4 separate regions of the Homo sapiens genome follow, and regions 2, 3 and 4 are each linked to region 1. The links come from fine-mapping of genetic effects on gene expression. A gene starts in region 1. Each other region holds a variant in brackets. All regions are shown on one strand. Distances are between the middles of the regions.

Region 1 (8,092 bases):
TACGGAGTCTCGTTGTGTCGCCAGGCTGGAGTGTAGTGGCGTGATCTTGGCTGAATGCAACCTCCACCTCCTGTGTTCAAGCGATTCTCCCACCTCAGCCGTCCGAGTAGCTGGGACAACAGGTACGCACCACCACGTCCAGCTAATTTTTGTATTTTTAGTAGAGACAGGGTTTCACCATGTTGGCCAGGCTGGTCTTGAACTCCTGACCTCAGGTGATCCACCTGCCTCAGCCTCCCAAAGTGCTGGGATTACAGGTGTGAGCCACTGTGCCCGGCCTAGATCAGCTTTTAAAGCAGTGAAAAAGCAAAAGTGGGATTCTGGCCTGCACAATCCAAAGCATCCCCTAGACAAGGACAGATCATTTTGTTTGTATTTTCAGTGCCTGACATAGCATTGTTTATTGAATAAATGAATGAAAGGGCACATTTCAGCTTTAATTAGGTTTACATTAAAGACCAATCATCAGGTATACCTGCTTAGCACTCTTCTAGGTACTTTGAGGATACTAAAACATTATTGGCAACCTGGTCCCTTAGAAGTGACCAAATTAGAAGTAGATGACATAAAGGATTACACTTCACTCCTGCAGCCATTTTCCACAAGCAGCTTAGTGCAGTTTAGTGAGTCCTTTTCATAGTTCATTGAAAACACTAGGGTTTGATCTATTTACTTATTTATTTATTATTAATATTCATTTATTTATGAGTTGCGGTTTTGCTCTGTCACCTGGGCTGGAGTGCATTGGCACAAACATAGCTCATTGCAGCCTTGAATTCCTGGGCCCAAGCTATCCTCCCACCTCAGCCTCTCTAGCACAGATGGGATGACAGGCCCCCGCCACCATACCCAGCTATTTTTTTAGTTTTTGTAGAGACATGTTCTCGCTGTGTTGAGTAGGCTAAGTATTGAACTCCTGGTCTCAAGTGATCCTCCCACCTTGGTCTCCTAAAGCATTGGGATTATAGGCGTGAACCGCTGTGCCCAGTCCCAATCTATTTAATGAAAAAAAAAAACAGTGGCAAAATAAAATACTTTTCTTTTCTCTTTTTTTAATCTTTAAACATATTTTTAACATTTTGTAGAGACAGGATCTTGCCTTGTTGCCTAGGCTGGTCCTGAACTCCTGGCTTCAAGGGATCTTTTCATCTCAGCCTCCCAGGGATTACAGGTGTTAGCCACTGTACCCAGCGAAAACCCTTACTTTTTATTTAATTTAATTTAATTTAATTTATTTATTTATTTATTTATTTATTTATTTATTTATTTTGAGACAGAGTCTCACTCTGTTGCTCAGGCTGGAGTCCAGTGGTGCAATATCAGCTCACTGCAACCTTTGCCTCCTGAGTTCCATCAATTCTCGTGCCTCAGCCTCCCAAGTAGCTGGGACCACAGGCATACACCACCACACCCGGATAATTTTTGTATTTTTAGTAGAGATGGGGTTTCGCCATGTTATCCAGGCTGGTCTCGAACTCCTGGCCTCAAGTGATCCACCCCCCTCAGCCTCAAAACAACATTCCCCCAAAGTTGCTAGAAGTCTTCCTTCCATGATAAGTAAGTTCCTCTTCACTGTACCATTAGACCATCTGTCTACCTCCTGATTTAACTAAAACCCACTTCTCCTTCAAGGATAGCTTCCCTTGTGTTCATGTAAGGTGGAAAATCCTCTTGTGTCCAACCACATACATCATGGCATGGGGTTAGGGGAAGGGTGCTTCAGTATTTCCAGAATCCACACTCTCAATTCCAAACTATACATCTTCCTCCATCATGTAAAAACTCCAAATCTTTAGAAGCAGGTACATCTGGTTATACCATCTTTATCCTCTTCTCATTGCTGTCATCTACTGACATATTCATGGAGGACTTTGGCCCCTGGCTCAGTCTTTCTTCTTATCATTCTAGATAATATCATTGCCCATGTGGAGAATTCATTCTAAATGAATCCTACCATCTCCCTTAATTAGATAATCCTCCAAGGCTAATAATGGTCAGAAATCTTCTGCATAGAAGGTAGTGGTACAGAGAGGGGTAAAAGGCATTGTGGTGTTTTTTACATTTTATTTTAGAACTTTTTTTTTTTTTTGAGACAAGAGTTTCCCTCTTGTTGCCCAGGCTGGAGTACAATGGTGCAATCTTGGCTCACCGAAACCTCCGACTCCTGGGTTCAAGCAATTCTCCTGCCTCAGACTCCTGAGTAGCTGGGTTACGGGTATGTGTCACCACGCCTGGCTAATTTTGCATTTTTAGTAGAGATGGGGTTTCTCCATGTTGGTCAGGCTGGTCTCGAACTCCCGACCTCAGGTGATTTGCTTGCCTCAGCCTCCCAAAGTGCTGGGATTACAGGTGTGAGTCACCGTGCCCGGCCTATTTTAGAACATTCTTGAATGTTTATTTTTAAAAAGGCTAGTCTGGACGGGCGCGGTGCTTCACACCTGTAATCCCAGCACTTTGCCGGGCCAAGGTGGGCAGGTCACGAGGTCAGGAGTTCGAGATCAGCCTAGCCAACATAGTGAAACCCCGTTTCTACTAAAAATGCAAAAATTAGCTGGGTGTGGTGGCATGTGCCTGTAGTCGCAGCTACTTGGGAGGCTGAGGCGGGAGAATCGCTTGAACCCGGAGGCAGAGGTTGCAGTGAGCCAAGACCACACTACTGCACTCCAGCCTGGGTGACAGAGTGAGACTCTGTCTCAAAAACCAACAAAAACAACTACAAACAAGCCATATTTACTATCCTACATAGTTTCTGTGGATTAGAAATTTGTGAACAGCTTAGCTCGGTGGTTCTGGCTCAGGATTGCTTTCGAGGCTGCAATCAAGATGTCAGCCAGAGCTGCAGTCATCTGAAGGCCTGCCTGGGGCTGGAAGATCCACTTCCAAGGTGGAACACTACTTGACTGGCAACTTGGTGCTGGTTTGTTGGTGGAAGGCTTGCCTCAGTTCCTCTTTATTGGGCTCTCCAAATGGACTGCTTTAGTGACCTCATGACATATACATGGCTTCCTTAGAGCAAGTGACCCAAAAGAGGCCAAGGTAGCAACTGCAATCAGTGTCACATACTGACACTTCCACAATATCCCATTGGTTACTTGGGTCAAGTTTATTCAATGTGGGAAGGGATGACAACAGGAGGGCCATCTTGGAGGCCACCACATTTGGTTGTACAAAATCTTCATGATGTTTCATATTGTTTTAATACTCTAATGAGTTAATGTTTAATAGAAAATAATAGCTTATAGGTATGAGGCATCTGGTTTGATTTTATTTAATCTTTAAAACAATGGCATAAGGTAGGTGCTTTTAATACCCCTTTCCACAGATAAGGAGGTTGAGGAACAGACAAATAACTTGTCTAAGTGTTCACCCAGTAAGTGCAGGGCCAGGTTCTAAACCCAAGTTCTAAACTGCCAAGATTCAGGGTAATTTGTTACACAGCAATAGATAACTAATACAGTAATTGTCTCAAACTGCTACACACTTGATTTTAAAGGTTGTCTAGCCTCATGCAGATCCCCAAATACTTTATCACAAAATACCAGAAAAGGAGGTTAGAGTGGTTTCAGTTGGAAATTAGGAACTACTGTCAACTCTACCTTGATACTGAAGGTCTGTAACCACAGTGGTTTCAGGATAAAGTAATTCACAGACAGCTATCAGTTAATAGAGCCAAGGGGCTATAACATGCACTCCTTCTGTCTTGGACTTTCCCCTAGTATATTTCTCAGCTGACGTTTTTTTTCTTTTTTTTTTTTCTTTTTCTTTTTTTTTTTTTTTTTTTTGGAGACAGGGTCTATTGCTCTGTTGCCCTGGCTGGACTGCAGTGGCGCAATCATAGCTCACTGTAGCCTTGACCTCCCGGGCTCAAGCAATCCTCCTACCTCAGCCTCCTAAGTAGCTGGGACCACAGGCACCCACCACCGTACCTGGCAAATTTTTTAGATTTTTTTCTAGAGATGAGGTCTCACTATATTGCCCAGGCTGGTCTCAAGCAATCCTCCTGCCTTGGCCTCCCAAAGTGCTGTGATTACAGGCATGAGCCACCACACCCAGGCTCAGCTGATCTACTGACCACTTGCCAAGACACCCAGTAAAACAGATTGTTCATTGTTTATATTCTAATAGTCAACATTTATTGAGTTCTTATTATGTGCCAGGTGCTATTCTAAGTGATTTACGTATACCCAATCACTTATTTTTATTCCCATTTTATAGATGACAAAACAGAGGCACCAAAAGGTTAAACCAGGGCTCACCATCATTAAGTGGCAAAGCTCGAATTTGCATTCAAGTAAACTGACTCACTATTAACCACTGTGTTAGAGGTTAACACAATGAGGCAGAAGTTCCAAAAACTCTAGGAGAAGACAGAAGGGTTTCAAGGGCTATGACCTACCAAGTAAAAGGCAAAAGAATTGGCAGCAAGTTAAATTTATCTTTCTCCTGATAATGTTCTTTCAACTCTCAGAGGCTGAATTTGCTAAGAAATTATAAAATGTTGTTTAGGGTTAGAACTGTTTTTACTCCCACCTCCTTAAATAAGCTTTGTTCAGAATGTCCATTTGAAACTTAGACTGGAACTTTCTGTGCCCTAGTTTCTATATTAGCTAGGCCACAAAACAAAAAAAAATTCTAAGGTTCTATCAGCCATATAGATCTCAGTCATCTTTTTAGTCATACTAGAACTCACCAAGTCCTCTTAACTGAAAGGACTCCTGGCCTACCATCAAAATGCTCATGTGTTAGGCTTTATATCTGGATTAAAGTCAAGTCAGCAAGAACTGGTCTCAGAGGAATTCATTCCTCCAGAGCAGAGGCAATGTGTGAGATTTAAGAACTCAGGCCTTAGCATCTGGCAGATCTTTAAATTTGAATCTTAGCTCGCTACTTGACATAGAGCAAGAAACATGAGTCTCAAATATAAATCAGGGAACAGCAGGACCAGAGCTGATGCACAGGAAGCACCTCGCATTGTAGAAGGCACTCAATAGCTGCTTGGTATAGAGTAAATACATGCTTGGTTTTCAGTAAATAAATACTTGATATTGAAACGATTATTTCAGTCATTGATCCATGCACAAGAAAATTGTGCATCATAAACATTTTACTCTTGAGCAAACATCAATTATTAAAAACATATGTTCAAATTCATTATCCATTCTATTTAATTAAATGCTTGAGGCGCTTGGGGAGCTTACATTTGTGATTTAAGTCTGTGCGTTTTTCAAATGTATCTTTCGGAAGAGATTAAGACACTGCAATTTTAAGCAGGGCAGGTGGCTCACGCCTGTAATCCCAGCACTTTGGGAGGCTGAGGTGGGCAGATCCCTTGAGGCCAGGAGTTCAAGACCAGCCTGGGCAACAAAGCGAGACACTGTCACCATAAAAAATATTTTTTTAAATTAAAAAGAGTGCAATTTGAACACATGTCAATATACGATTACCTTTTAATTCAAATGTGTAGCTATCTACTGTGCTGGAATCAGGTGGGCAGCAGGTGATCCCACTAGTGGCAACTTGGTGTTCTGCGATGTGGCACATCCACTTCTTAAATGCAGATTATTGCACTGTAATAAAAATCCTCCATATTCAGTGCTTTCATTGTGTATAATTATGTAAACTGTAGACAAAAAATATTCCTGAATTTGTGTGTGTGTGTGTGTGTGTGTGTGTGTGTGTGCGGATGCGCAATCCGAGATGGTTGTTAAAGCTCGAAAGCGAGTTTAGCTTCTAGAGTCGCCCCTCCTCCGAGGCCCAGCCGAGGTGGACTCGCACCGTCGCAAGACCGGCCAGGCGGTGGCAATGAATAAAAAGCCAGTCTTGGTGCTAGGGACCCAGGTGTTCTCCGTCCCGCCCCTGCCTGGCAGCCCCGCCCCTCCCCCGCCCCGGGCCACGCCCCACCCTGGCCCAGCCCCCAAAAGTACCGTTTGCATCTCCCGTGAGCCTCTTCGACTGTCACTCTTTGGAAAAAAAAGTGACGTCTGCACTGAGGTGGCCGCTAAAGTGCGAATCACGACGGGCGGTGGCCGTTGGGTCCCGGCGGGAGGCGGGGTTTCCGCTCCCTGGGGCGCACGTCAGTCAGGAGGCGGAAGCGCAGCGGGGGCGGGAAGGTTGTAGTGCCGCGAGTTGAGCTCCTCTTGCCTAAGTGGTCGCGCCCCCTTTAAGAGCAGCGATTGTAAGGAGAGGCGGTCCCGGTGTCCTCGGGTCCCAGGTAAGTACGACAGTCTGGAGGCACCGGGCAATAGAAAAGTGTGGCTCCGGTGCTAACCTGTCGCCGCCGTCTTTGTTGCTACAGGCAGCGACCTCCCTTCCGACCTTGCCACCTAACATTTCTGGCTCCTACTTGCTTCCTTCGTCTCGTTCACAGCCCGGGCCCAGCCGGCTCTGCACATCCGTAGGCAGGGACCTTTCTGGCACGCCAGTCTACCCTGTCACAAGATGGCCCTGTTGTCCTCCAGTCCTAACCCCGCATTGCTCGCTCTGTGTTTCAGCCGCTGGAGACACCTAACGATTCATTTACTAAAAACCGGTGTCTGTTTTCTATCCCTTGTGTCTTTCCCGGGCTCCCTAGACTAAGGCATCACTCTTTGCTGCCAATGAAATCAATTCTTTGCCTCCGGCACTGTGCCCACCTTTTAAAGAGCGGGTTTGTTAAGCTTTTTTTTTTTTTAATTAATAGTATGGTTGCTTGAATAAGACTTTATTTTCCCTTCTGAAAGCAGGATTAGGGTCTTGCTCATCTTGGATCTCCCCAGGATTTAGTACGAAAGCACGAAGTTTGGAAACCAGCAGCCCAAATAATTCCTACTAGCTCTATGACCCTGGGTACGGTTTCCTCATCTATAAAATGGTGATAAATAAATAAAGGAACTAATTTCGAGCATGTTACACAGTGTATGGTGCAGAGCAGATACAGTACTCCTTTACCTTTTTTAGCTTTCAGTGTACACAGTAGTTTTTGGGTATGTGTTTTAGACGAATGCAGAGACACCATAGATGAATGATTTTTCTTCCTAGCACCATGATTATATTGACTCTATCAATTGGTTGATATATTTGGTAAATACAACCTAATGACGTTTATTAAAGACAGTAATGCTAAATGGTATGAACATCTGCAAGAATAAACAATGCCGTATTTAATTAAATGCTTGAGGCACTAGCAGAGTTTACATTTGTTTCAGTCTGTGTACATTTCAAATGTATCTTTCTTTCTTTTCTTTTTTTTTTTTTTTGAGACCGAGTCTCGCTGTCTCGCTCTGTGGCCCAAACTGGAGTGCAGTGGCGCGATCTCGGCTCACTGCAACCTCCGCCACCCGGGTTCAAGTGATTCTCCCGTCTCGCCCTCCCGAGTAGCTGGGACTGCAGGCGCTTGCCACCACACCCGGCTGATTTTTTTTTTTAATTTTATTTTTAGTAGAGACTGGGTTTCACCATGTTAGCCAGGATGGTCTCGATCTGCTGACCTCGTGATCCGCCCGCCTCGGCCTCCCAAAGTGCTGGGATTACAGGCGTGAGCCACCGCGCCCGGCACAAATGTATCTTTCTGAAGAGATTAAGAAACAGCAAACATTTCATTGTAAGGAGGCTAGCTGTTCCTTTTAGTTTGTGATTAAAATATGGTGCATTGTATATGTGTGTACACATATTTTATAGGTGATTGTGAAGTGCTGACCAATTGCCACTGGACATACTTGAAACAAAATAGGAAAATGGCAGCAAACTCTTCAGGACAAGGTAATGACAGCAGGAATTTCTTTACTATGAACATTTCCCCAATATAGTAAATGTATTTGAATAAGAGAAAATTTAGCATAGGGCAGTTACTGTAGCCAGAATTTAAAAAATGAATAGCAGGCCGGGAGCGGTGGCTCACGCCTGTAATCCCAGTACTTTGGGAGGCCAAGTCGGGTGGACTGCTTGAGGTCAGGAACCCCGTCTCTACTAAAATACAAAAATTAGCTGGGCATGGTGGCGGGCACCTGTAATCCCAGCTACTAGGGAGGCTGAGGCAGGAGAATTTCTTGAACCCAGGAGGCGGAGGTTGCAGTGAGCCGAGATTGCACCACTGCACTGCAGCCTGGGCGACAGA
Region 2 (8,092 bases), 64 kb before region 1:
CAGGCGTTCCTTAGGTAGGAAGAAGGTGCCTAGAACGACCCCTTCATAAACAATAGTTCTTTTCCTACCCTTCGCCCAATTCCTCTTAACTGTACCATCTGTTCATCTTACAAAGCCTGGTTCTCATTGACATGTTTCTGTGCTACCATCTGACATGGTACTACACACGCGGAGTGCACTCTGCATGTGACCTAAGAAGTCAGGTGCCTAAGGAAAGTCCAAGAAAACGGCATTTTGAGTTTTCAGAACAAAGGCCTAGAGGAAACAAAATATCATACAGAGCTGAGTATGTGCTTGTTGATTAATCATCACCCCAGCCCAAACCTTCTCAAGGACAAAAAAAAACACTCAAGTGAGGAACAGGGCAGGACTCAACTTCCAATAGCAGGTGCCAAGTGGTTACTGTTAATCCACTCTTACAGCCCACACTTCTCAGATGTGCTGCAAAAGCCTTGCACTTTTAGCAAGACTAAAAGTGTCCTTGCCTTGGGTGGATCCCCTGAGGTCAGGAGTTCAAGACCAGCCTGATCAATATGGTAGAACCCTGTTTCTAGTAAACATACAAAAAAAAATTAGCCAGGTGTGGTGGCATGCGTCTGTAGTCCCAGCTACTCGGGAGGCTGAGACAGAAGAACTGCTTGAACCCGGGAGGCAGAGGTTGCAGTGAGCCAAGATCGCGCCACTGTACTCTACCCTGGGCGACAGAGCGAGACTCCATCTTTAAAAAAAAAAAAAGCGTCCTTGCCTCAAAAATTACCGAAAACTCACCATTCCTCTACAATAGGGACTGTCTCTCTGAAACCCATAGGCACCTTGGGGGCCAAAAATTATGCACCAACATTTGCATGTGCACATGCAAATGCCAATCTTCTTTGGGAGCTTAGATGTTACATCTAAGCTTCTTAGGAGAGAACCTATAATTATTAGAGCCTCAAAAATACCTAGGGAGGGAAAAAAATCACGACAGATTCTAAACTGTCTCTCTAAACTAAAAATAGGAAACAGAAATACATTTCGACCTACCTGAGCTACCCAAATTCAAACTGCCCTCTAGTATAGTACTTCCACATTTAATGATTTGTGACACCCATACCCTACCTATGGGGCTGGGGGCTGTCCTTAAATCCTCAATCCAAACCTAAAATGAACACAAGAGGATGTGCTAAATGAGAAGGAAACGTGTGACTACATTCAAATAGGTCATACTTCCTTCCACAGTGTCTTCACTTCATTTTTTTCTCCCCGTACAGAACAGGTTCTCCCTGTACAGTACTAGTTTTGTGGCACTCAATAATGTTGTATTGATTTAGATCTGCATCTCACCACAAAGCAGCTAGAAGAGATGTTTTTCCGTGGAACTTTTCGAGGCCTGAGACACAGTTTCCACACAGCATCTTTTTAGAATCCTGAAGTGTGCTAGCCTACAACCCAAAAGTACAGATGGCCTTCCAGGCTGGAGCGCCACCTGACTGGCTACCTGGCTGCCCCAGATCGAATTCCCACATTCCCACTGACATGACTCAGACCGAATGTGGGTGATTTCTATTCCCATGGTTAGCGTGTTCACTGGAAAAGAAAAAGGCCCTGAACCAAGAGTCTGATCATAGTTAAAACATTAAAGAATAAGAGAAAAAACAGGAAGAGGGTATTCTAAACCAAAATGGCTCAAAGGAGTTTCACACCTAAGTAACCAGACAAGGAGAGGTAAAGAAAATTTTAAAAAGGCAAGAAGGGGCCAGGCGTGGTGGCTCACACCTGTAATCCTAGCACTTGGGAGGCCAAGGTGGGCAGATTGCTTGAGCCCACAAGTTCGAGATGAGCCTGGGCAACATGGTGGAACCCCATCTCAAAAGTTTAAAAAAAAAAAGTCAAGGACAGACGTAAAAGAAAAGGGCCTTAAATTTAATACTGGTCACACAGTCTTGCCCTCTCACATGGGCATTCTGAGTCCAGAGACAGAAATGAGCTCTGTAAACAAGGGCCATGCACTACTAGGAGAGGGACAGACACAGAAGAAGGAAGAAAGTGAAGGAATGAATGAGGAAAAAAAAACTCTTACAGCCTTACTTAGCTATAAACTATGAGGTGTAAAATGAAGTCAGAAAAGAGACAAGAGGCCAGGCAGGGTGGCTCAGGCCCATAATCCCAGCACTTTGGGAGGCTACAGCAGGCAGATCACTTGAGTCCAGGAGTTCGAGACCAGCCTGGGCAACACAACAAAACCCTGTCTCTACAAAAAAAATACAAAAGATTAGCAGAGCGTGATGGTGCACGGCTATAGTCCCAGCTACTCAGGAGGCTGAGGTGGTAGGATCACCTAAGCCCAGGAGGTCAAGGCTGTGGTGAGCCAAGATGGTGCCACTGCATTCCAGCCTGGGTGACAGGGTGAGATCTTGTCTCCAAAAAAAAAAAAAAAAAGGACAGCTCCTACATGTTAGTACAGCAGCAACTACAGGGTATCCATCTGTATGGAGAGGCTTGGGGGCTTATCTTGAAGCCAATATGCAAGAGATCAATAAGCTGTAAGGATTTCTAAAGATGCTTTTATTTCCACTTCACATATGATACAGAAAACCATCAGCTGAAGAATATTATTATTATTTAGTTAAGGTTATTGTTGAAAAGGGTGCTGATAGATTAAGGGAGAGGTGGCTTTCCTCAAAGCTTCTCCTAGGTATAGTGTTGTTAGACAAAATTTAGCTAAAAATTACATTCCTAGGCTGGCAAGTAATCCTAGCACTTTGGGAGGCCAAGGTGGGAGGATTGCTTGAGCCCAGGAGTTCAAGACCAACAACCTAGGCAACCTAGTGAAATCCTATCTCTACAAAAAAATTTAAAACTTAGCCAGGCACGGCCAGGCGTGGTGGCACATGCCTGTAATCCCAGCACTTTGGAAAGCCAAGGCAGGCAGATCACTTGAGGCCAGGAGTTTGAGACCAGCCAGGTCAAGATGGCAAAACCCCATCTCTACAAAAAATACAAAAATTAGCCGGGCATGGTGGCAAATGCCTGTAATCCCAGCTACTCAGGAGGCTAAGGCATGAGAATCGCTTGAACCAGGGAGGCAGAGGTTGCAGTGAGCCGAGATTGTGCCACTGCACTCCAGCCTGGGTGACAGAGTGAGATTCTATCTCCAAAAAAAAAAAAAAAAACTTAGCCAGGCATGGTAGTACACACCTGTAGTCCCAGCTACTCGGGAGGATGAGGTGGGAGGATCGCTTAAGCCCAGGAGGTCGAGGCTGCAGGGAGCTGTGATCACACTACCATACTCCACCCTGGGTGACAGAGTGAGGTCATGTCTCAAAAAAAAAAATTACATTCCCAAAATATAGATACAGTTAAATGTGTTGTAAGCAACCTTCTTCAAGTAATGAAATACTTGATTATGTTTCTATGAGATGGCAGAAAGAGTGGGACAAAATAATCACTCCCTATTTATTCTATAGACCAAAACATAGGTGTTTTCCAACACACAGGAGTTTTAAGCAGCCTAATTAACATGGTGCTATACTCCCCCAAACCACGTATTAGAAGATATGGAAAGCAAAATCTGTTCGCTTATGTATTCATCCAAACACTTATCAAGTTCCCATGGACTGCTAGGTGCTATTCTAGATGTGGAGGAAAGGGAGCCAATAAGGAATTTACTTGAGGAATCTAGTTTAGGTGACCTGTGTACTAGAGCCCAGAAGAAAGCCAGAATAATTCTGTTCTCCGAGGAAGGCTTCAGAGAGGGAGGTTTGACCTGGGCTTGGCAGGATGGCAAGAGACCCGGGTTTAGATTCTAGTTCTCCTACCAGCTATGAGGTCATAAGAAAACCACTTAAACCTACTGACGTTCACTGGAAAACAGCAAAACCTGGTCCAGGCTAGGCTGCATGGAGATTACTGGGGATGTGTGAGAAAGTCCTCTATAAACTCTGCAGAGCTGTTCAATGGAAGAGAAAGGTGTTCCTGGCACGGAACACCACATCAGCAAAATCGCCAAGGGGTGAAGTGCAGAAGGCAAAAAAGAAGGCACGGGCAGGGGACCAGTCATCCTGAATGGACATGAGCTGCTCTAGGGGAAGCAGCAGGAA[A/T]TAAGGCCTGGAAAGTGGATTAGCTCCAGAATCCTAGGGAATCTTAAATAACAGGCTTAACAATCTGAGGTGCACCCCACAGGTAACGGCTGTTAAGCAGCAAGCTGCAATCATGGACACATTTTACAAAAAGACTTCAGAAAAAAGCATGCAGAAAAAATAAAGAGGGAAATACAGGAGACGTGAGAGGGAGCAGTTGGGGAGCTGCCAACTGTCCAGGTACCCCTCTCCCAGTAGTACCTGACCTAGGGGGTAGGTGCCAGGAGAGGCAAGGGCAGATGAGAGGTGTTGTCAATGCTAAGATCATATGGCCTGGGATACCCTGATGAATGTTTCCTAGGTGGAAAAAAACAGTCTGGCCACACCAGGAGGAATCATGTTTCAATTCAGGTAAATTACAGAGGATTAGAAACTGCTATTATTCTAGCAAAATTGAATAAACCCAAGTTCAACAGCCCTGTGTGCCATCTACAGAGCCCATCCTTAGGATATGAGGGCAAGTCCTACTGAAATGACTGTGTTCAGCAAAGGCTCAAGCCAAGGTCACTGGGTACACCTTAACATATTCTTACCCACGTGACAGCTGCCTCTCACAGGTCACTCACCTTCAGTAATTTGCTTCAGTGATACCTGATTCAAACCGTTTTTTCCACTCTCACAAACCAGCAGCCCTCAGCACAGAAACTGACATGGGGAATCTTGACCATAGTCCATTTAAGGAGGCCAGCTGCACAAACAGCCCACAGACTGTCATCGCAACCTGGCTCTGACACCTGGCCTGAGTGTTCTCCTTAGGACATATGGACCCACCCTTGGCAGACAGCAAAAGGTGGACAGCTGATTGCCCGGGAACCTGGACTATGAGTTGACTCAAAACCACAACAAAACCCCAAAATAGAAAGCAAAGTCTTGGGGCTAAGATGGACTTAGGGACAAAATCCATCCTTTCACAGCAGTCTATACATATAGCTCTAAATCAAGGGAAGGGAAGATAAAGAAATTAAATGTTTAAGTTCACACTCTCTGCCAGGCACTGTGTAAGTCACTTTACATATTAAATGTCTCACTTAACCCTTAAAATAACTTGGTGGCAGAGGGGAGGAATTTTATTATCCCTGTTTTATTAAGAGAACAGGTTACAGACCAGGAAAGTTAAAAGACAAGAAGTCACTCAGCTAATAAGAAGCAGAGGCACAACCCAGCCTGGAGACTCCAGAGCAGAGGCTAGTAGCCCTTCACCGTCTGCCTCCATGGCGCCAGAGATTTCATTAAACAGTTACCTACCGGACAAGAAACCCCCAACTACCACCACATTCACCTTTGCATCTGTGGCATCTGGAGAAGTGCCTGGTGGTAAGCAATTCTTCATTAGTGTTTCTTAAAACAATGAAACTCCTGAACCACCAGTGGCAGAAAAATAAATCAAGCCACTTCTCTTCTCAAGGGAGCTGAAGAGTCAGCCAGCTCCAGAGAAGATCCAACCCAAAGTACCAGAAACCATTAACACACAGCTCCACTTAGCCATCAGCAATCCCCAACAGAATCCGGAAAAATAAAACGAGGCCCCACCAGTGTCTGCTCTTACAATAGAAATAAATGTGAGTGGTCAGACAGCATTGTGCAGGGGCACATCTGACTTGAACATTCAGTGTTAATGCAGGAGGTTAAGGGGAATCTCATCTCCAGGGAACTCTTGAGTAACATCTCTCTTATCCAAATAGCTTGATAACTCACCATGTCAATCCCTAAACTGATGGAACAGATCTGAGTTTTAATAATGATAACTATGGAACTTCAAAGAGTGAAGACAGAATAGATTATTCAATAAATGCTGATGGATTTTTTGGTTAACTATTTAGAAAATAGTTTCTCTAATGCTAAATGCAAAAATAAATGTCAGGCCATTTAAAGGTTAAAAAAATGAGTACTACATGATGATTTATACCAGGGGTCAGCAAACTTTTTTGTTAAGGAACAGTCTGTGGCCACAGTATCTCTCCTGCAACAACTCAAGTCAGCTGTTGTAGTGCAAAGGCAGCTATAGACAGTAGGTAAACAAATGAGGATGGTTATGTTCTAATAAAACTTTATGGCAGGGCATGGTGGCTCACACCTATAATCCCAGCACTTTAGGAAGCTGAGGCAGGCGGACCACCTGAGGTCAGGAGTTAGAGACCAGCCTGACCAACATGGTGAAACCCCATCTCTAATAAAAATACAAAATTAAACAGGCATGGTGGCACATGCCTGTAACTCCAGCTACTCGGGAGGCTGAGGCAGGAGAATCTCTTGAACCCGGAAGGTAGAGGGTGCAGTGAGCCGAGGTTGCACCATTGCACTCCAGCCTGGACAATAAGAGCAAAACTCCGTCTCAAAAAAACAATAAAAAATAAAAAACCTTTACTAACAAAGACTGAAATTTTAATTTCACTAATTTTCACATGGCACAGAATATAATTCTTTTTATTTCATCAGCCACTTAGAAATGTAAAAATCACTTTTAAAACTAATGGTGGGCGGGGCGCAGTGGCTCATGCCTGTAATCCCAGCACTTTGGGAGGATAAGGCGGGTGGATCACCTGATTTCAGGAGTTTAAGACCAGCCTGACCAACATGGCAAAACCCCGTCTCTACTAAATATACAAAAAAAAAAAAAAATTAGCCAAGCGTGGTGGTGGGCACCTGTAATCCCAGCTACTCAGGAGGCTGAGGCATGGGAATCCCCTGAACCTGAGAGGTGGACATTACAGTGAGCCCAGATCACGCCACTGCACTCCAGCCTGGGCAACAGAGCAAGAATCTGTCTTAAAAAAAAAAAGTTTTAATAAAATTAAACAAGACAATAAAAAAGCATTCTTAACCCATGGGTTATACTAAAACAGGCAGCTGGACAGATACACCCTTTTGGCCTTAGTCTGCCAATTTCTGATTTCGATGAATAGTATATAAAATCCTGTGGTTGGAAAGGCTTTCTAAACCCCAACAAAAAGCAGAATCCATAAAGGAAAAGCATAATAGACAGCAATTTTTTTTCTATGTCAAGAAGACATAACAAAGATTAAAATATAAATAACAAACTGGGGAAAGGATTTGAACATACATGAAAATAGGTTGTTTGCTTTAACATATTAAGGGTTTTGAAAAATCAGTATTTAAAAGGCAGATTCCACTACAAAAATGAACAAATTATGTAAATATAGCCAATAAACAATAATCATTCATCATCAATAGCATACAAAATGAAAATGAAAACAAGATATTGTTTCTCCCACCAAAGTGACAAAGATTAAAAAGATTACCTCTGATTGCAAAGCCACATTGTTTCTACTACAACACACTAAAAATATATTCAGGACACCACCACCAAAATAAAATGGCTTTTTCAAAGCTCCATTCAGTGCCAAAAGAGCAAGGGAAGGACTTTGCAAACAAGAGAGAATGTAGGCTGGATGACAATACTATGGTTAGGGGACTCTGTGACGGGCTGAATCATCTTGGCTAAAGAGAAAATGTTGATAACAGAACTGGCATCCCCACCTTCAATTTTCAGCCATGGCTAAGCGTCATCAATGTCTAAGCCGGGGACAAAGATTCAGAGCACATTACCGTATCCATTTGTTTTCAATGACCCAAGTGCTTTTCCTCTGTCAGTGGTGACTAATGACAGATGGTAATATTTATACCTAGTGAATTTCATCTTACTATGAAATTCAAGCCCCGGGAAAGCAGACAGTCCTCAAAATCACCCAAGGTAGCAGAAGACACAAGTGGCAGTCAGACAAATGCTGTGCAGATGGTAGATGTAAGGAACATTTTAAATTCTATGCATGATGGCGCTACCACACCAAGGGAGGAGCCCACATAGAGAAAGCAAAAAACCCATTCTTCTTGGATTTTGGTGCAAAGAAAACAGCTTCCAGAAGTGCAAATAGAAGGCTTAGAGATCCCCTTCCAGCTGCCATCAGCAAACCCACATCAAGAATTTTGAGGACTCTAGAATGATTTCCTTAGGC
Region 3 (8,092 bases), 38 kb before region 1:
AATGCCTGACTTGAAACCGTGTCCACGTCATCTTTACACTTCACTCGCACATGTGCTTCCCGGTCTGCGCCCCCCTCTCAAAGACGGCACCACTGTTCAGCATCAATCTCCTGGACTTTCTAGTCAGTCACCCCCACTACACCAAAATCTGTCATCTTTATATTTTCTAATCTTTCTCTTGTCAGGCAACAAGTCCAACCAAAACCAGGTTAATTCTTCCTATCTTACCTCTTTCACGGCTGGTCTTTCCCCATCCCAAGCCCTGATCACACATCCCCCTGCTCAAAAACCCTCTTGGGGCCGGGAGCAGTGGCTCACACCTGTAATCCTAGCACTCTGGGAGGCCAAGGAGGGTGGATCACCTGAAGTCAGGAGTTTGAGACCAGCCTAGCCAACATGGTGAAACCCCATCTCTACTAAAAATACTAAAATTAGCCTGGCGTGGTGGCATGCACCTGTAATCCCAGCTACTCGGGAGGCTGAGGCAGGAGAATCGCTTGAACACAGGAGACGGAGGTTGCAGTGAGTCAAGGTAACACCACTGCACTCCAGCCTGGATGACAGAGCGAGACTCCGTCTCAAAAACAAACAAACAAACAAACAAAACCACGCCCTCTAGGACTAGCTACTGCTGAAAGAATAAAAGCTAACCTCCACATCACAGCACTCAAAACAGTCTCATTAACCTCCTGACCTGTCTACCCACCTCGTCTCTCACTAATCTCCACCTCTAGACTCTCAAAACCCACTCCCAACGCATGACCCAATTCAGTCCTCCTCCAGCGGCCACAGGTCTTTCCTGTCTCTGCCCTTCACCTTGGGGCTTTTCCCACCCCACATCTGAAAGCCCCCTCCAACTTCACGGACCTGGTGAAAACACAACCTCTGCGACCTCAGCTGATCTGCAGACATACCCCCAGCTAGTGGGGCTGCCAATAGGAATAAACACCCCATTCTCCCTACTCCTCAGGTAAAACCCAATTTTCAAGTCATATTTTAAGGTCACGGTATTGGTAATTTAAGTTTCAAGTGGCAAACCAAATTGAAAACAGTATTAACAAAAGGGAATTTATGACCCCCTATAACCAGGAACCCGTTCTAACTTCAGGCACAGCTGGCACAGTCGGATCCTGAACTCAAATGATCTTGCCCCTCTTCCTCTCCTAGCTCTACTTCCCTCTGGCTTCATTCTTAAGCCAAGCACTCTCTGCATTGAAGGACACGACCATTCACAATCTAGTAGAAAGGCAAGACATTCTTTCCCCCATCATCCATCTCATAAATCTCAGGAAAGACTGCCTGGCTCTGTTAGGGTCACACATCCACCAGGGATGCTATTTTGGCTAATAAAAGATATTGATGTTAGACCAGAATGGGAAGGATGAGGAGACAAGCCAGGGTATTTCTGTCCCAACCTGCTCTCTGCCTCAGATCGTGCCACTGGCAGCGGCTGCCTCCCCTCCAGGGCCCCCTTCCTCTAAGGTCCCAGCTCCTGCTCAATGACCCTGCCACAGGTCTAGTTCTCACAGAAGCTCCTGGGTTCTACTTAACTTCGCCTCTTCCCCTAACCCTCCAGTCCTGAGGGTAACAGCAACTTCCTGCTACTGCTACTCTCTGGGTCAATTTACCACCCATCACCTATGCAACTAACTCCTTGTATTATAGTCTCTCTGTTTGAAATAACTTCACTGGCTTTTATTCCCTGATCAGACCTCAACTAATATAGAAATCGACAAAGCATAGGCCAAAATGTAGAAAGAAATGTGGAGAGTACAATATCAAGGAATAACAACCACCAACACCTCCCATTTCTTAAAGGTTCGCTATATACATCACCCACTACTCTACGAACTCGCTGGGTCTTCCTATCAACCCAGTGACATGGGCACATCTGTTATCCCCTTTTCACAGATGAGAAAACTGAGGCTCAGAGACGTTAAACAACTTGCTGTTACCAAGACTCTAAGTGGTGGGGCTGAGATTCAAATCCAGACAACATGATTCCAGCATGAACAACTTTTTTTTTTTTTTTTGAGATGGAGTCTTGCTCTGTCGCCAGGCTAGAGTGCAGTGGCGCAATCTCAGCTCACTGCAACCTCCACCTCCCCGGTTCAAGCGATTCTCCTGCCTCAGCCTCCCAAGTAGCTGGGACTACAGGTGTGCGCCACCATGCCCAGCTAACTTTTTGTATTTTTAGTAGAGACAGGGTTTCGCCATGTTGGCCAGGATGGTCTTGATCTCTTGACCTTGTGATCTGCCTGCCTCGGCCTCCCAAAGTGCTAGGATTACAAGCGTGAGCCACCATGCCTGGCCCGTGTGCACACCTTAAAACAGGAAGTGGAGGGGAAGCATTTCAAGCAGGAGGTTAACAACAGGATCAAGTGTTACCTACCAAGGGGTCAGGCAAAATAAGGACTATAAAGCATCTACTGGATTTAGCAATAATGAGATCACTGAGGACCCTGAAGAACAGAGTCAGAAACTAGGCAGCAGGAGGCTGAGGAGTATGTCAGAGGTCAGGAAGTGGAAGCAAGGGCCGCAAACCTTCTCTTCAGAAAAGTGTATTGTAAAGAGGAGTCACAAAATAGGGCACAAGACCAGGCACAGTGACTCAGGCCTATAATCCAAGCATTTTGGGAAGTTGAGGCAGGAAGATCACTTGAGGCCAGGAGTTCGAGACCAGCCTGGGCAACAAAGCAAGACCTTATCTCCACCCCCACAAAAAAAAGGCACCAGATGGAGGAGAAAAGAACATCATAGCAGAGCTTCCTTTACTCTTTCTCTCTGTGTGTGCACGTGCGCGCGTGTGTGTGTGTTTAATAGAGACAAGTTCTCACTATATTGCCCGGGCTGGTCTTAAACTCCTGGGCTCAAGCGATTGTGTGTGTATGTGTGTGTGTGTGTGTGTGTTTAACAGAGACAAGGTCTCACTATATTGCCCAGGCTGGTCTCAAACTCCTGGCCTCCAGCAATGTTCCTGCCTTGGCCTCCCAAAGTGCTGAGATTACAGGCAAGAGCCACCACGCCCAGCCACTCTTTCTGTGTTTTAAAAATCAGAGCAACTTGGCCAGGCATGGTGGCTCACAACTGTAACCTCAGCATTTTGAAAGGCTGATGCGGGCAGATCGCTTGAGCTCAGGAGTTCGAGACCAACCTGGCCAACATGGCGAAACCCCGTCTCTACCAAAAACACAAAAATTAGCCAGGCGTCAAGACCAGCCTGGCCAACATGGCGAAACCCCATCTCTACCAAAAACACAAAAATTAGCCAGGCATGGTGATGCGCGTCTGTGGTCCCAGCTACTCAGGAGGCTGAGGCAGGAGAATCTCTTGAGCCCAGGAGGCAGAGGTTGCAGCGAGCCAAGATCGTGCCACTGCACTCCAGTCTGGGTGACAAAGCCAGATACTGTCTCAAAAAAAAAAAGAGAGAGCGCAACTTGAGCATGTTTAAATATTGATGGGAGTGAGCTGGTTGAGAGGGAGTCCAAAGATACAGGGGTAAGTCAGGAGGCCAAACAGAGCAGGGTCTCCAAGAGGATGGGGGGTGGCAGGTGGGTCTACACCCTCAGTCAGCCTTAGACTCTCTCCTTGGAACAAGGGCCAGAAAGAAAACATGGCTATGGAGTCAGATCATTCTGAAATTTGAAGAAGGGAAGTTCCTTTCTGGTGGCTTCCATCTTCTCTAAGGTGGAAGGTGAGGCAATCAGCAGAAGGAAGGGTGGAGTAGAAGGGTAGAGGGTATGAGGAGCAGAGAAAAGTTTCAGATAAGCCACTGTGCAGACGGAGGGTCTGTGGAAAAGAAGGAGTGTCCAGGACCACTGAAGCCCCAGCTGTGGCTGAAACCTGTGAACTTACATTGGCAGCAACCCTTGAGCTTCCTGAGAACCCTGGTTGTAGATGAAAGACATGAACAAATGGAATGATCCAAGCTGGGTATAAAAAGAAGAGAGCAAGGGAACTGAATATAGAGGCAGGAGCAACCACGGAGATGGGCCACAGAATCTAAAGGAGGTAGGGGAATCCAAGAGGTCACAGAACAGAACAGGTATAGTCAGTTGTTAATGACTCAGAGACCTGGAAAGCCAGGACGGGAAAGCAAGACAAAATGATATACGCGGGGAAAAGGGAACTTTTGT[A/G]CAACGCTGTTAGGAATGTAGATTGGTACAGCCATTATGGAAAACAGTATGGAGGTTTCTAAAGACATTAAAAATAGAACCACCATATGACCCAGCAATCCCTCTTCTGGGCACATACCCAAAGGAACTGAAATCAACACCTCATAAAGATATCTGCACTCCCACATTCACTGCAGCATTATTCACAATAGCCAAGATATAGAAACAACCTAAGCAGGCCTCAATGGACGAACAGATAGAGAAACTGTACTGTGTGTGTACACACAAAACTGAATATTATTCAGCCCCAGAAAAGAATGACATCTTGTCATTTGCCATAACGTGAATGAGCCTGAAGGAAATTATGCTAAGTGCAACAAGCCGGACACAGAAAGAAAAACACTGAGTGATCTCACTTACATATGGAATCTTTAAAAAAATTCAAATATATAGAGAAAGAACACAAAATAGTGGCTACCAAGGGCAGGTGGGAGAGGAAATGGGAAGATGTAGGTAAACGGATACAAAATAGCAGATATGGAGGAGTGTACAAGTCTGGAGATCTAATGTAGAACATGAGGACTAGAGTTATTAATAATAAAATTGTACTGTACTTGACAATCATGCTAAATGAGTCAATTTAGATGCTCTTGCCACAAAAACAAAATGAGTTAACTATGAGATGATGACTGTGTTCATTTGCTCCACTATAGTAAACTTTTACTATCTATGTGTATCCCATAACATCAAGTTGTATACCTTAAATAAACACAATAAAATGTGATAATATCCAGTGGCACTATTTCAGAGCTGGAATGCTTCTAGGTATTACAACGCAGGGTGCGGCCGTGGGAGAGAGCAGATGAACTGTTAAAAAGGTGAAGGAGCCGAGCGCAGTGGCTCACGCCTGTGATCCCAGCACTTTCAGAGGCCGAGGCAGGCGGATCACCTGAGGTCAGGAGTTCGAGACCAGCCTGGCCAATATGGTGAAACCCCGTCTCTACTAAAAATACAAAAATTAGCTGGGCGTGGTGGTGGGCACCTGTAGTCCCAGCTACTCAGGAGGCTGAGGCAGGAAAATCGCTTGAACCCTGGAGGCAGAGGTTACAGTGAGCTGAGATCGCAGTGAGCTGAGATCGTGCCATTGCACCACAGCCTGGGCAACAGGGCAAGACTCCATCCCAAAAAAAAAAAAAAAAAAAAAAAAAAAGGATGATTACAGATAAGGAGGTCAAGAAACTGGTAATTTTGGAGAGTTGGACAGATCAGCCATGTGAATGATTAAAGCCCCGTGGTGAGGACATGATTTCAGAAGACAGTAAGTTGGGGTCTAAAGATTTAATGAATGAGAGTGAGAAGGTGTGAAGTTGGAAAATGACAAAGAAAACAGTATTGGAAGGTCTGTAGTGGATATTTGTTTCCTGCTTGTCTAACATTTCTTGATTTTGCTCTGGCAACCACCTCCTCCCTTCCCAGGCACAGAGGGGGCTTCCAAAATATTTGTAATATTCTGTATCTTAATCTGGGGGTAGGAACATTTTATTAGTCTTTAAACTGTACAGATAACTTTTACTCTTTATATACACACATTGTTATAAACTTCATGTATATATTCCCCAATTTTAAAAAAATTCCTTTCCTCATTCCAAAGATAAGTACCTGATTCAAGTCTGCGCAATCAGAATCAGAGACTGGTTTAGGCGCCTGACCCAATTTAGACCAATGAGACACCAGCCCAGAGCTTTGGCCAGAACTATCAGGAAAGGAGTGCTCTCCTTCTGCTGGAGCTGGGAAGCTTGTTTATAGAACATATCCCTTCACTGGCATGAGAACAAGGCTGACACAGAAGAAAGCAGAGCCAAGAGATGGAAAGTGACAGATCCCCGACATCACTGGAATACCTTGCTCCAGCCATCCCTGAAGCCAAAATACCTGGGCCTTTTCAGCAACGTGAGCCAGTAGATTTTTATTTTCCTCTATCTAGTTTGCATTCAGCTCATGTCTTTTTAACTAATAAAGAATCCTAACTAATTCAGGGGAATGCTCAAGGTAGTCTCAATTGAACAGCCTATGTGATCCTTTTCAATATATAATCAAACTATGCCCCCCTCCTGCTCAAGACCCTGAAATGTCCCCTGCCCATGTTAACTTCCCACCCCATGGCCCTAGCAATAAAGGCCAAAGTCCTCAGGGTGACCGGCCACATTCAATATAATCTGACCCCTCCCTTCTCTGCCCCCAGCCTTTAACTCTCCAATGCTCACTCTACCTGGCCACACTGGCCTCTAGGCTGCTCCCCGACACACCAGCCCTGTGCCTTCCGGCCTCTGCTTCAGGCAGTCCCTCCCCGGACAGTCTTCTTCAGATACTCACCCACTAACTCCCTCACCTCCTTCCAGTCTGCTCAAATATCAAGTACTCAACAAGGCCTGCCAAATCCTCTTCCTCGCGGCCAGTTCTCCTTTTTCCTCCTTCCATGGCATTTATGGTGTAATACAGTACAAACTTGCTGAAATGTATCCAGTGAGGGCAGGGTTTTCAGCTAATTTATTCAAGTTCCTAGAACAGTGCCTGGCTCATAGTAGGCCCTCAAATATGTATCAAATGAACAAAAAGAATGACAGGAGCCTCAAAGGAGCAGAGCCTGGTTTGTAAAAGGTGATGGAGGAAAAGCCTTCTCTATTTTGAAGACTTCAGAGGACGTCTAAGTGACCTAAGGAGGCAGGAAGTAGATGAAGAGTTCAGAGAAGAGATTGAGGATGTGGGAGGAGGTGTTAGCCACACAATGGGGCTTAAGAATCCAGTATTAAGTTTTGGGAGGGGTACAGAAGTTAGAGGCTGAGTCAGAGGAGAAGCAGCCTGGAGCAATTTACAGATGAAAGTTAAAAAAGGAGAGTAAGGCTAAGTGATGTATTTACATTTTAGATGGAGATAGCCATATAAGGTCCAGTGAGGCTCACGCCTGTAATCCCAGAACTTTGGGAGGCAGAGGTGGGCAGATCATCTGAGGTCAGAAGTTCGAGACCAGCCAGGCTAACATGGTAAAACCCCATCACTACTAAAAATAAAAAAATTAGCCAGGTGTGGTGGCAGTCACCTGTAATCTCAGCTACTCAGGAGGCTGAGGCAGGAGAATCACATGAACCCAGGAGGGAAAGGTTGCAGTGAGACTGCACCACTGCACTCTAGCCTAGGCAACAGAGTGAGACTCCATCTCAAAAAAAAAAAAAAAAAAAAAAGGCCCAGTGAGTTTAGCAGGCATCAAAAGAATTAGTCCTGGCAACCTCTGGTAGATAGAAAGGATTCCTCCTTTGGGAGCCTATGAAGGGAGGCATCACACCATGATTTGAACAATTTGAGAAATTGGTGGAGAGTCCATCATATTCAGTCTTTCTCTTCTACCCAAGCACTACAGAGTTCATTCACAAGCGTCAGCTGGACCAAGACACCAGGCTACCCTGTTCATCGCACCATCTTGGGCCCTCAGAAAGCAATTCCCCTTTGCATAATAACCCTGTACTATGACCAGCCTGTCAAACCTTCATTCCCCTGGCCCAGAACTGACGCAGAATCCCTGTCATCCAGGATCACAACCCCAGTATCTAACAAGACAAAACTGGCTTCTTTTCAAAGACAGACCATAGCACTGAACTGTCCTAACACCCCTCTGATGACCCTCATGCTGCTGAGGTAGGAGAAAGCCAGCCACAGGGAAGGCTTCCTTCTTCTGGCTCTGACTCACCTCTGTGGCTTGCTAGCTTCTCTCTACAGAAATTTCTTCAGAGTTATGAGACCATACGTGTATGCCAAGATTCAAGGAAAATGTTACTCCTAGTCAGAGAAAGAAATTACAATGCTTAGCCTCTAAGGAAAAGTGGCTTACTATAAATCAGGCCCTTGAGAATGGTGTCATTTAGATGCTCCCCACAGCTGTTAGGAGATTCATTAAATATTCAATAATTAGGCCAGGCACAGTG
Region 4 (5,000 bases), 28 kb after region 1:
GTTATAAAAATAGGTCTAAAATGTTTCTGATTACTCTCTCTTTCTCCCTTTTCTCCTATTCCCCTCTTTTTTTTAGGTTTTCAAAACAAAAATAGAGTTGCAATCTTGGCAGAACTGGACAAAGAGAAAAGAAAACTACTTATGCAGAACCAGTCTTCAACAAATCATCCTGGAGCTAGGTATTGACACTATAATGTGGGTTTTTTGTTTGTTTTGTTTTGTTTTGTTTTGTTTTGAGACGGAGTCTCGCCCTGTCCCCCAGGCTGGAGTGCAATGGTGCAATCTCGGCTCACTGCAGCCTCCGCCTCCCGGGTTCTAGCGATTCTCCTGCCTCAGCCTCCCGAGTAGCTGGGATTACAGGCACCTGCCACGACACCCAGCAAATTTTTGTATTTTTAGTAGAGATGGGGTTTCACCATGTTGGTTAGGCTGGTCTTGAACTCCTGACCTCAGGTGATCCACCCGCCTTGGTCTCCCAAAGTGCTGGGATTACAGGCGTGACCCACCGTGCCTGGCCTGTAATGTGGTTTTTATATTCAGTGATATAAAAATTTCTTGGACCAAATAATTCAAGTTGGCTGGCAATGATTTTTTTCTTTAACACTGCAATCTATTCATTGTGTTTTCTTTGTATAGGGGAGGCTAAACTTTACCTGTGCCCAACTTAGTTCTTATTGGGAGGGACCTCTGTAACAAAAGACAGATTAACAAGAGAAAAACAAATTTATGAGTGCATGCAGCACACATCACAAGGGAGAAACCTTATAACTCAAAATCATGGCTTAGAACTCTACTTATATAGCATCTTCAACAAAGAACAATAAATGTGGAACAAACAAAAGGGATTTTAGGCTTCTTGGGGTGGGAAACTGAGAAGGTAAATATATGGAGAAAACGAATGGAGTAAGGCTTGTTGGCAGAGTCCTCTGCTGCTGTCCCTAGGCTAAGAGTCTAGAGTTGTCTCCAGTAGAGGAGAAGTTCTATCCTATCTTTAGGCAGAAAGTGGGGAGGGGAGAGAGAGAGCTTTTCCTCAGTTTGCTGCTGCCTTTTATTTTTATTTTTAAGCAACCCTATTAACTGAGCTGCTTCTTAATTGCTTTCAGCTCAAAAATAATTTTTATATCAAAGAAGCATATTTTAGGTGACATATTCTAGTTCCCTTCATTTCCTAGTCAGACTTTTAACAAACTGTTTAGTTGATTAAATTGTAAACATTCTAACTAGAATATTTAATTTTCCCTATAGACTTCATAGCCTTCAGACTTTTTTTTTTTTTTTTTTGAGACAGGGTCTAACTCTGTCACCTAGAGTGGAGTGGAGTGGCACAATCATAACTCACTACATCCTGAGTCTCCTGGGCTCAGGTGATCGCCCCTGAGTATCTCACACTACAGGTGCACCCTACCATACCTGGCTAATTTTTTTGTTTTTTAGTAGAAACAAGTGAGGTCTTGTGTTGCCCAGGCTGGTCTCAAACTCCTGGCCTCAAGTGATCCTCCTGCCTCAGCCTCCCAAAGTGCTGGGATTACAAGCGTTAGCCACTGCACCTAGCCCTTATAGCCTTTTTTTTTTTTTGAGTTTTGTATGGTTTTTTATTACTGCAATTGCTGCTAGTGCCCCACTTTTTAATCATTCTGCAAAGTAGGCCAAATTTAGGTAGCTTGATGATCTTTATTATAGGTATTCAGTCTCTGCCATATTTAGTATCTTCCCTCAGATCCATTATTGCCGGGCATGGTGGCTCACGCCTGTAATCCCAGCATTTTGGGAGGCTAAGGTGGGTGGATCACTTGAGCCCAGTAGCTCGAGAGCAGCCTGGGCAACGTGGCAAGACCCATCTCTACAAAAAATACAAAAAATTAGCTAGCCATGGTGGTGCATGCCTGTAGTGCCAGCTACCTGGGAGGCTGGGTGGGAGGTTCACCTGAGCCTGGGAGGTTGGGGCTGCAATGAGCTGATTGCACCACTGCAATCCAGCCTGGATGATATAGTAAGACTGTCTAAAACAAACAAACAAAAAAGATCCATTATCCCCTTCAGCCACCACCACCCTAACTCTCTTCTGTCTTTCTCTTAAAGCAATTGGCTGTACTCATCTTTACTTTCTCACTTATTGATGCCTCAACCC[G/A]CTGCAGTCTGACTTCCAGGCCCTCCATCAAAGAAAATGTTCTTGCCTAGGTCTCTTGTAACCTTCCCGGGTTAAATCTGGCAGACCAGAGTCCTTTTCTTATCAGACATCTTAGTGTTATTTGACACCACTGATCACTTTCTTTCTTTTCTTTTTTTTCTTTTTTCTTTTTTTTTGAGACAGGGTCTCTGCTGTGCAGGCTGGAATGCAGTGGCACGATCTTGGCTCACTGCAACCTCTGCCTCCCATGTTCAAGTGATTCTCGTGCCTCAGCCTCCCAAGTAGCTGGGATTACAGGCGTACCCCACCACACCCAGCAAACTTTTGTAATTTTAGTAGAGATGGGGTTTTGCCATGTTGGCCAGGCTGGTCTCAAACTCCTGGCCTCAAGTGATCCACCCACCTTGGCCTCCCAAAGTGCTGGGATTACAGGCGTGAGCCGCTGCACCCGGCCCACTCTCTTAAAGTACTCTCTTGGCTTCCATTTGCTCACTCGGAGAATGTAAAACACAGTAGGAGGAGACTATCTTGATTTCTTTTGTGGACATTTCTCTATTTGTCCCTTGAATGCTGACAGCCCTTCGAATTCTGTTCTAGACCAGGCTTCCTAGCCTGCCTGTTTTCACTGGACAGTTGCATCTTTTCCCACATGCTGTTATTTACGTGCTAATCACTTACGCATTTGCAGCTCTAGTCTGTCCTTTCTTCTAAGCACCACCTCTGCCTCCTGGATGTCTCTACTTTGATGTCCACAGGCATTTCAAATGTAGTATGTCCCAACCTGAACTCATTCTCCCCGCTCTCCAATCAGCTACTGAATATTCTTGTGTATCCTGTCTCAGTAAATGGTTCAGGCTGCCATCTACTAGTTACAAAGTCAGAAATGTGAACTTCAGTTGTTTACCATTCCTTTCACTTTCATCTCCAAGCATTCACCATTCTCTTGTGATTATACTTTGAAAGGTGTCTCACATCTGACCATTTCCTTCATTGCTACTGATGCTATCCTGATTCCTGGCCACTCTCATTTCTTGCCTCAATTATTATAACTGCTTCAGAGTTCCTGTGGTCTTACGCTTCTTGAATACATTCATCAGTTGTGTCATTTAGCAAGCTTTAATCGGGAAGTAACAGAAATATAACAAAATTGGCATAAACATTTGGGTATCTGTTAACCAAGAGTGTGAAGATAAGGTAGTTCCAGAGTAGCTTAATTCAGTGGCCACAATATCATTAGTGATGCAGCTTCATTCATCTTTCCTTTCTGCTTTACCCCATGGGTCAGTGGCTCCCTCAGGCCAGAATATGACTGCAGTGGCTTAGGCATCACCCCGCACTGAGCCACCTGTAGAGGAAAAAGCCTGAAAGGTTCCTATGGTGTGTCCCATTTGTAAGAGTGAGGAGAACACTCTCAGAAGCCTTCCTGTAGACACCCATCAAGTCTGGTTGCCCAGATTATGTACCTTTCTCTTGCCTAAACCAGAAACCAGCTAGGGGAATGACATTGTCTTACATCAATCAAGGTCTACCCCCTGGGGCATGAGCCTGGCCTGCCTTGAAGCATGTGACTACTGATAATTGAACCAAGTTTGGGTTCCATCAGCAAGGAGGAAAGGAGACAAACAACTGTTGAGGAGGTGACCAACACTGTCTGCCACAGTAGTGCAATAGTGGTCTTTCTGAACTACAGGATGATAGTTCTTTTTTTTGAGACAGGGTCTCACTCTGTCACCCAGGCTGGAGTGCAGTGGCACCTTCTCCAGACCTCCCAAGCTTAAGCGATCCTCCCATCTCAGCCTCCCACGTAGCTGGAATCGCAGGCACATGCCACCATACCTGGTTAATCTTGTTTTTGTAGAGATGGGGTCTCACTGTATTGCCCAGGCTGGTCTTGAACTCCTGGGCTCAAATGATCCTCCTGCCTCGGACTCCCAAAGTCCTGGGATTACAGGCATGAGCCACCACGCCTGGCCAAGAGGGTTATACTTCTGATCATGTCACTCCCCTGCTGCCTAACACTCTTTGGAGGTCTCCTATTACTGTTAGGATAAGGTCTACATTTTATAACATTTTCCAGACCATTTAAAATCTCAGTAAATAACATAGACTTTCTTATATAAATTCATGAAGATAGTGAGAGAAGGAAAAAAGACTTATTCTTGGAGGTTTTTTTTTACCCCTATAAAGAATATATAATGAAAAGTTGTGATTCAGAAGTAAGGACATCTCTTTAAGAGATTTACTATATAGCATAGTGACTATAGTTAATGATACATACTTGAAAATTGCTAAGAGAATTTTTTGCTAAGAAAATTGCTAAGAGATCTTAAATGTTCCACAACCAAAAATGGTAAGTATGCGAGGTGATGGATATGTTAATTAGCTTGATTTAACCATTTCACAACAAATACAAATACTAAAACATCATATTGTACACTGGAAGTATATGCAGTTTTTGTCAAGGATACCTCAATTTAAAAAAAAGAAGATAATTTACTACCATCCAAAAAAAAGTAAGGATGTTTCTGCCTTAAGCAGCTGAGTAACCAAGATTCCCATTTTAGCATTGCACTCTCGAGACCCTCTCTTAATAAGGACTTCCGGGATCACGCTGAGCAGCAGCATATTGCAGCCCAACAGAAGGCAGCTTTGCAGGTGAGCAGTGTAACTGACATTCTTGCCTCGGTGGAGGTTTCCTGGATCTCAGAAGCCGGCACATAGTTATTTTATATTTCAGTGGAGCAATATCAATAAAAATGTTCCACACATAATTGCAATGGTTTGCTGATGTTCAGTCAAGCCCAGAGGATTTGAAGGACCAGTGCAGCAGTAATGAAAGTATCTTTTATGGTGTTGACTCGGTCATGATTGA

Evidence for each region. PIP is the estimated chance that this variant, and not a neighbour inherited with it, causes the effect. A credible set is the group of variants that fine-mapping cannot tell apart.
Region 2: its variant is the best candidate, but not a certain one, in a credible set for the expression of INIP in whole blood (TOPMed, PIP 0.84).
Region 3: its variant is the best candidate, but not a certain one, in a credible set for the expression of INIP in nasal epithelium (TOPMed, PIP 0.54).
Region 4: its variant is the best candidate, but not a certain one, in a credible set for the expression of INIP in blood mononuclear cells (TOPMed, PIP 0.77).

Annotation. Positions count from the first base shown.
Region 1 is chr9:112,716,106-112,724,197 of GRCh38, reverse strand. INIP (INTS3 and NABP interacting protein) reads left to right here and starts at 6,081. Exons shown (of 5, transcript NM_021218.3): 1 at 6,081-6,211; 2 at 7,657-7,737. The coding sequence starts at 7,713. RefSeq lists a silencer at 5,870-6,029 and an enhancer at 6,400-6,499.
Region 2 is chr9:112,780,444-112,788,535 of GRCh38, reverse strand. All of the region lies in intron 1 of SNX30 (sorting nexin family member 30), which reads right to left. Among named protein-coding and RNA genes, the nearest start is that of SNX30, 34 kb to the right of the region's middle. The variant A/T (reference allele first, on the strand shown) is at 4,080.
Region 3 is chr9:112,753,669-112,761,760 of GRCh38, reverse strand. The region is part of intron 1 of SNX30 (sorting nexin family member 30); the gene reads right to left. Among named protein-coding and RNA genes, the nearest start is that of SNX30, 7.0 kb to the right of the region's middle. RefSeq lists enhancers at 5,239-5,918, 5,954-6,567, 7,020-7,109, 6,568-7,182. The variant A/G (reference allele first, on the strand shown) is at 4,137.
Region 4 is chr9:112,689,310-112,694,309 of GRCh38, reverse strand. It overlaps INIP (INTS3 and NABP interacting protein), which reads left to right. Exons shown (of 5, transcript NM_021218.3): 3 at 77-179; 4 at 4,693-4,783. Among named protein-coding and RNA genes, the nearest start is that of INIP, 26 kb to the left of the region's middle. The variant G/A (reference allele first, on the strand shown) is at 2,129.